Homo sapiens: one gene and its partner. The protein of the gene in region 1 purifies or fractionates together with the protein of each later gene. This does not show direct contact. Each region holds a gene or a part of one and is shown on either strand. Other genes may lie near its edges.

The links.
Region 2: the proteins of SRBD1 (region 1) and NBEAL2 purify together in Homo sapiens (tandem affinity purification; one large-scale study listed by IntAct). This does not show direct contact.

What each region holds. Positions count from the first base shown.
Region 1 is NC_000002.12:45,604,595-45,608,440, forward strand, and holds part of SRBD1 (S1 RNA-binding domain-containing protein 1), read right to left. Parts: intron 848-3,846; coding exon 768-847; intron 1-767.
Region 2 is NC_000003.12:47,000,166-47,003,665, reverse strand, and holds part of NBEAL2 (neurobeachin-like protein 2), read right to left. Parts: coding exon 3,262-3,500; intron 2,666-3,261; coding exon 2,487-2,665; intron 2,388-2,486; coding exon 2,228-2,387; intron 1,978-2,227; coding exon 1,840-1,977; intron 1,747-1,839; coding exon 1,378-1,746; intron 1,296-1,377; coding exon 1,146-1,295; coding exon of another isoform or gene 1,132-1,145; intron 1,022-1,131; coding exon 864-1,021; intron 710-863; coding exon 585-709; intron 493-584; coding exon 357-492; intron 1-356. UniProt on the Homo sapiens protein: Probably involved in thrombopoiesis. Plays a role in the development or secretion of alpha-granules, that contain several growth factors important for platelet biogenesis.

The DNA of each region.
Region 1 (3,846 bases):
AAACTTATTCCTGCCTCAGGGTCTTTGCACTTGCTGCTTTCTCTATTTGGAACACCCATCCCCAAGATCTTTGCAAGCTGCACCCCCAAATCTCATCTAGATCTCTTGCCACATCTTCCGCAATAACTTTCTGACTACTCTATCCAAAATGCCCCCCGACTGCAACCACTCACTATGCTCTCTATCCCCTGCCCTGTTTTATTTTTCTTTATAGTACTTATTACTATAAATATTACCAGTCATTTACTTAACAAATATCTTCAGAGCACCTAATATGACTCTAAAGCAGAGATTCTCAACTGGGGATATCTAGCAATGTCTAGAGACATTTTTAATTGTTATAACTTAGCAGGAAGCTATTGGCATCCAGTGGGTAGAGGCCAAGGATGCTGCTAAAAATCCTACAAGAAAAAAGATAGCCCCCACAACAAAGAATTGTCTTGCACACAATGTCAGTAGTGCAGAGGTTGAAAAATCCTGCTCTAAAGCAATATATAAAACTCTATGCTCTCATGGAGCTTATATTCTAGTGTAAGTATTATGTTACATATTTAGTTGGTTACTTTCTCTCTCCTTTCGATACTTTATTAGCAACACTAGACAGAACCTGGAACACAGCATGAGTTCAACAAATACTTGTTGCATGAATGAATAAAAAAAGTTTTTTCTACCCACATCACTTAAGGAGTTAGAAAGTGACAGAATGCATTACTCCTTATTAAAATATTCATCATTCCCCTACCCACATATTAAACCAGTATGCTTACAACTCAGAGAATGAAGAAAATTCATCTTTCAGTACCACATCCTGGACCTGTACTTTCGCTCTTCTTGGCAATGATGACATCTAGAAGAAACAGAAAATAAAATCAGCAACACTTGAATATTCTTATCACTTTATTTGGCTACAAGTAATGGGTCATTCAAAACTAACATTTCATAGGAAAAAAACAAAAACAATGATGTTTATTCACAAGCCCAAACATCAGTTTCCTCTGCTATGTAGCTGCCAATTAAAAGAGTAGCTGGCTGGGCACCATGGCTCATGCCTGTAATCCCAGCACTTTGGGAGGCCAAGGAGGGCGGATCACCTGAAGTCAGGAGTTCGAGACCAGCCTGGCCAACATGGTGAAACTCAGTCTCTACTAAAAATAGAAAAATTAGCCAGGTGTGGTCGTGGGCACCTGAAATCCCAGCTACTGGGGAGGCTGAGGCAGAAGAATCACTTGAACCCAGGAGGTGGAGGTTGCAGAGAGCTGAGATTGCATAATTGCACTCCAGCCTGGGCAACAGAGTGAGACTCGGTCTCAAAAAAAAAAAAAAAAGAAAAAAAAAGAGTAGCTAACAGCCTTCCAATGGTTTAAAACTCTTAAGAGTATGGGCCATCTTTTAAAAAATATAAACTCCTACAGGGTGACACCTGTAGGAAAACTGTGTGCTTCATTTTTTAAGAATTGTGTGCTTAAGTATTCTGTGTTATTTTATGGTAATAATATCAGGCAGCCCCTTACAAAGTCCTTTATTAAACTATATCTCAAAGACAGAAACATTTTTTTCCTATTCTTTTTTTTTTTTTTTTTTTGAGACAGAGTTTCGCTCTTGCTGTCCAAGCTGGAGTGCAATGGCACGATATTGGCTCACCACAACCTCCGCCTCCTGGGTTCAAGCGATTCTCCTGCCTCAGCCTCCCTAGTAGCTGGGATTACAGGCATGCGCCAACACACCCGGCTAATTTTGTATTTTTTAGTAGAGACAGCATTTCTCCATGTTGGTCAGGCTGGTCTTGAACTCCCGACCTCAGGTGATCCGCCCACCTCGGCCTCCCAAAGTGCTGGGATTACAGGCATGAGTCACTGTGCCCAGCCTATTCTATATATTCTTAATGAATAAAGTAGAGGTCTCTCTACAAAGTTGGCAATGAAATAAATGATGCTGATTGACTGAGTAAGCAGCCAGGTTATTCTTAAAACAAGATAATCATTCCCTTATAATAAAAGTTCATTAAACTTAAATAAAATGATTAATCACTATGTGACTAAAAACTATTTACCAAATTCGAAGGCCAAGCTGTAAAAAAAAGTTAAGACAAATAACCAGAGACATCACATAATACGGGAAAGTAAATAAAATTACTTTAGCTGTTAAGATTAATTAGCTGTTAAAATTAATTAATAAAGGACTTTATAAGTGGCTGCCTGATATTATTACCATAAAACCATCAAACTATAAGGACTACACTAGGCTCTGACATGTTTGGAACCCTTTAAACAAGTTTCTGACCCAGTCATATGTTATAATGCCTCTGGTTCTAACATCCGCTTAGAAGAGGAAATAATCTCTCATGGAAATACTAAAGGGGTTGTCACAAAAGGGAATATGTTCTCCCAGCAGCTATAGCTCAACTCAGTCCAGTAAGTACACAATGATTGGGCAAAATAGTGCTCAGAGGGAACCAAAAGAACAACAGGAAAGCAGTCTGCAGGAAGTAGACAGGATAATCTTCCATCTTTCCCTTCACTCTCTTTTTGGCATATTAGGTTATAAAGATCATCCTTTCTCAAATTAGTATTTTTTAGACATTGATCATGAAAGAACAGGTAATTGTGATTTTTATATTATGTGTATCTTACCACAACAAAATAAGAATGGAGGAAGTTAGTGTATGACAAGGGTGGCATTTAAAATCAGGGCAGGGTAAAAATGGATTATTCAATAAATGGTATTGAGACAACTAGCTATTCCTCTAGAAGAAAAAAAGGAGTTTAATTCCTACCTCCACACCATTAACAAAAATTTATTCCCCAATAACTAATAGTTTAAAATGTACAAATTAAAACTATAAAAGAACTAAGAAATAAAGGTGATTCTTTTCACACTATTGAGGGGAGATGGGGAAATGGAGGTTTTCCTAAATATGACTCCTCAAAATTCCAAAACCAAAAAGACTAACAAATTGCAACACATAAAAATTAAAATCCCAAGCCAGTAGTGGGAGCATATGAGAACCAAACCAATTTACCCTGCAGTATTCTAAAAAAAAAAAATTCATATGAAGCAGTAGCTGATACCTTTGGAATTAAAGGTGAAACGGGTTAGGGCTGTGTATAAACTGACAAAGGAATATCTCTAAGTGTCCTACCTCACTTCATGCTATTAGGCAACTGCCCCAGGAAAAAGACTGTAAGTTTATTCTCTGGAGAAGGTATTAATGAAACAGTCTAGACTGTGGGCATGGGAACCATACAGACTGAATGCTAAAGGCAGAGAACCCTAGTCTTCCGCCACTAAATTCCTAAAATACTGCCCTCTAGGGAGGAGAATGGGAAGGCTTTTCTCTGGAGAATCTAACCAGTCCAAGAGTAAAAACTTGAAGGTGCTAAGCTTCCCATCAAACAACCCACCCAGATCACCTTACAATCACTCCTACCACCACATTCTACAATATGCCTGAATTCAGAACATTCCCACACAGACTACCATATACTAATTCTATCTCCACACTTCAGCCTTAACAGAAATGTGTTTAAAATAGGGACAGGCAAACCCTTGGCAGGCTTATGTTTTTGCTTAACCATTATCCTTAAAGAAGGCTCCCCTAAATCAAATATTTCCAACTGCCTCTTTATAAGGCACCCCGAAAGCAATATACCATGGAAAGATGAGTGAGTTGTAATATTTCTTTTCACAAATGTTAAAAATATCAATGTAAAAGGAAAGGTGGGAAAGCAGAATCTGCATGAACACACAAGCCAATTTCAAGCAGATCAGATTTAGAAAGAATATATACAAAAGCTGAAGACTTGGAAATTATGTCTTTAAAACTACCTACGACAGGTACACCCCCAG
Region 2 (3,500 bases), on another chromosome or scaffold:
GTCCCAGCCCCTGTCCCCCACCTGCCACCCACTGGGCTTCTGAATATTTTGCCAGGATGCCAACCCTTGTCCCCTGCTCCCCTCACCCAGCCCCTGCCCACTCCCTGGGCCCCCTTCCTGCTCTGGTTTGTGTTTCTCAGTGCTGTCCTCAGGTGCCTGGCTGTTAAAAGAGCAACTCTCAGCCCTGTTAGGAGACTCTCCCACTCACCATCTGGCTTTGGACAGTCCCTTCAGGGGGACGTAGTCGGGCAGCAGAAGAGGACACACTCAGGGAGTTGATCCCACAGAGGCATGCACACACTGGAGCAGACCCCTTGCCCACCACACCAGTCCAATCTCTCCAGGGCCCCACTCACGGGGTCTCCAGCTCAGCCAGCTCGTCCTCGCCGAGCTGGTCCTCCTGCAGCAACTCGGGTGGGGTGCTCACTTTGGCCTCTTTGGTCACTGCCAGAGGCAGTGAGGCCTCCTCGGTGGGTGTCAGGGGAACCTCACCTGCAAGGGGCCAAGGGTACTCAGCAGAAGCAAGGCAGGACAGGAGACGGGACAATCGAGTTGGGTGGACCCATCTCAGCACACTCCCTCACCCAGATTGTCTCGGAGAGCGCTGGCTTCCAGGTGAGGGTCGAAGTGATGGTTGGGCACCAGCTTCAGACGCATGCGTGAATATGTCTCGGCGCTGGACAGTTTCCAGCGGGGGATGGGAGTGTCCCTGCAGAATGTCCCCCAGGTCATGGGTCGGTAGAAGGCTGTAGACACCCCCATCCCTCCCTGGCCTCACCCCAAAGGCAGTCTGGGGCTCCAGGTGGCTCCCTCCCTCCCAAGCCCCACCCCTCCACAGCGACCCTGCCCCAAGCCCGGCCCACCTCAGCGCCCAGGCCCCACATGGGCTGGCGAGCTGGCGCCACAGCGCCCCCCAGTGCAGCAGGGCCATGGAGTGCTGCGTTGCCTGCTGCTTCAGCACTGCCGTGTAGCGTAGCCCCTCCAGGCGCGCCCGCCTCTGCGCAGGTTCCAGCACCAGCTCCTGGGGTGGGGGTAATAGGTCAGTCCCCTGGCTGCTGCCTGCCCTACCCGTTTCTCCACATTGTCAGTCATCTCCTGGGTGCATGTGTGGAGCAGTTTCCCATCCCTTACCCCGGGTGGCACACCTGGAAGGCCCGACGACTCTGGGCGCGCTCCCACTGGCGCCGCTGCCCACTGCTCATAAGCATGTCATAGCAGGCATTCCAGAAACCTGACATAAGGTCGTGGCTCTTAGCATACGTGTCCATTTCGAACTGGGACATGGTTGGCTGTACCTGGAGGATTGGGCAGAGGAGAACAGTGCTCGATGTGGGCCCCAGCCCCCACTCCTCTTCCTGGGCCCCAACCTCCAGGCACCTGTTTGTCGATGAAGTGGCGCCATTCGGGTGTGGCACAAAAAGCCTGGAAGTCTTCAAAGAAGGTGGGGCTGCCATTGGTGGGTGGCAGGGAGGGCAGTCCCCACTGCAGCCCCAGCGGCTCATAGGCACGGTCTAGCAGCGTGCGCACCAGTGGCACCAGCCAGGAGCAGCGCTCTGCAGCTGCTGCAGCTGCTGCAGCTGCAAGTGGGGACCCTGCCTCATCAGTGGCTGACTCCAAGGAAGAGGTGTTCAGCACCCGCCCCAGTGCAGCCTCCAGCTTGGAGAGCACATAGCAGGCCTCCTCGCGGCGGGCTGGCACTGCAGTCTGTAGCAGCATGTGCAATCTCACGTAGGCCTGGGCATGCAGCTGTGGGCGCAAGAGAGATGAGTGGCACCCAGCCACTCTTGGAGCTCCCGACATCTCACACGCCCCCTGCCCCCATGCTCACCCTGTGCTCACCTGTGGGTCTTCCAGCAGGATGTAGCCAAGTACAAGCCGTAGGCCAATCTGCGCCATCTCACGGAGATCAGCTGTGCCGTTGGCCAGGTGGGGCCAGGCTCCCAGGCGATCAAGTAGGCTGCATACACCTTCAAAGAGCTGCCACAGAAAACAGGTTCCCAACAGACATCACCAGGGGAGGCCAGGAGTCCATGGAAAGGGAGCAAAGTAAAGTTTGCGCTGGGGGCCAGGTAGGGTTTGTGCACACAGGCAAGTCCACACTCACAGGCATTCATGCTGATGCACCCACACCTGCGCACGTGTACCCATCCACCTCCCAGACCAGATCCCTGCAGGCTTGCATGAACATGAGTGTTCATGTGGCTCACGCCTCTCTGAGGGGTCGCACCTTCTCACTCCACAGTTCCTGGTTACCATGGCCTTCAGCACACAGGAAGTCCTGCAGCAGACGCAGCAGCCAAAGCGCTTGCTGGGTGAGGCTGGCCAGGACCCCCACGGGGGCCTCTTTGATGTCGGTCAGGGCTGACTCCAGCATCATCTCCAGGAGGCTGGCGGGTGAGTGGGGAACTCAAGGGTCTACCTGACTATCTTCTCTCCTTCCCCCGAGGCTTCCTGAAGCCCCTCCCCCTCCAGACTTTCCCTCTCACCTGCGCTTGATGCAGTCTGGTGGGCGCACAAGTGTGGCTGAGGCCCCCAGCTGGGTGAGCACTGAGAAAACCTGGCCACGCTCCCGCCAGGCAGCCTCATCGCTGCCTTCCACGCCACGCCACGTCACCGAGAACAGCACGTTGGTGAGCAGATTGCACAACTCTTCCTCAGAGGTTTGCTGTGGGCACAGGTGGGTGGTGTGGGCGTGGGTTGTGGGCGGCTAAGGGAGGGAATCAGGCTGACGCCCACCCATCCCCACTCAGCACCCCTCCTGGGGTAGCCACCCAGGAGTCAGAGCATTTGGCTAACAGTGAGCCTGGCACTAAGGGCCTGGAAGAATGGTATAGGGGTCTCAACTACTACCTGAGTTCCAGGCAGAATCCTGGGGTCTTGCCAGACTCCCAAGAGGAGATGAGGCAGTTCACATAGAACAAGCAGAGGCCCATCCCCAAACCCAGAAGCCCAGGGCAGGGCCTTTGGAGTTTGCTGCCCTTGGACCCTGTGAGGTGTCTGCCCTACAGGCTCTCTTGAGGGCCCTTCTGAAGCCTGGCTGGTGTCACCCACTGTGGCTCATCATGACTCACCCTGTTCCAGGAGCCCTCTGGGAACACAACTGCAGATGAGAGCTATGAGGGGACAGCAATAGGCCTGACCAGTGGCTGCAACCCTGGTCAGACAGGGCCACACCTTTGGAGAGGCTACACTGCCAGCCCTGTGTACCAGAAGTGTCCTCCCTTGGGTACCATGCAGTGGCAGAGGGTGGGCCCACCTCACCTGTGGGTTGCTGGTGTTCGAGGTATCATCCCCGCTAATGGTGGGCTCCGGGAGGCTGCCGTCCTCCAGCACATTGGAGAGACTGGAGCTGTGGCGGCCAGGAGCAGCAGGAAAGGGCCGCGGCCCATCCAGTGGCGAAGGAGTGCCGGGCTGGCTGGCTGGAGTAAGAGTCCCACTGCTGCCGCCACCACCAGCAGTGTTGCCTGATCCTACACTAGACCGTTCCAGGCCCAGGTCAA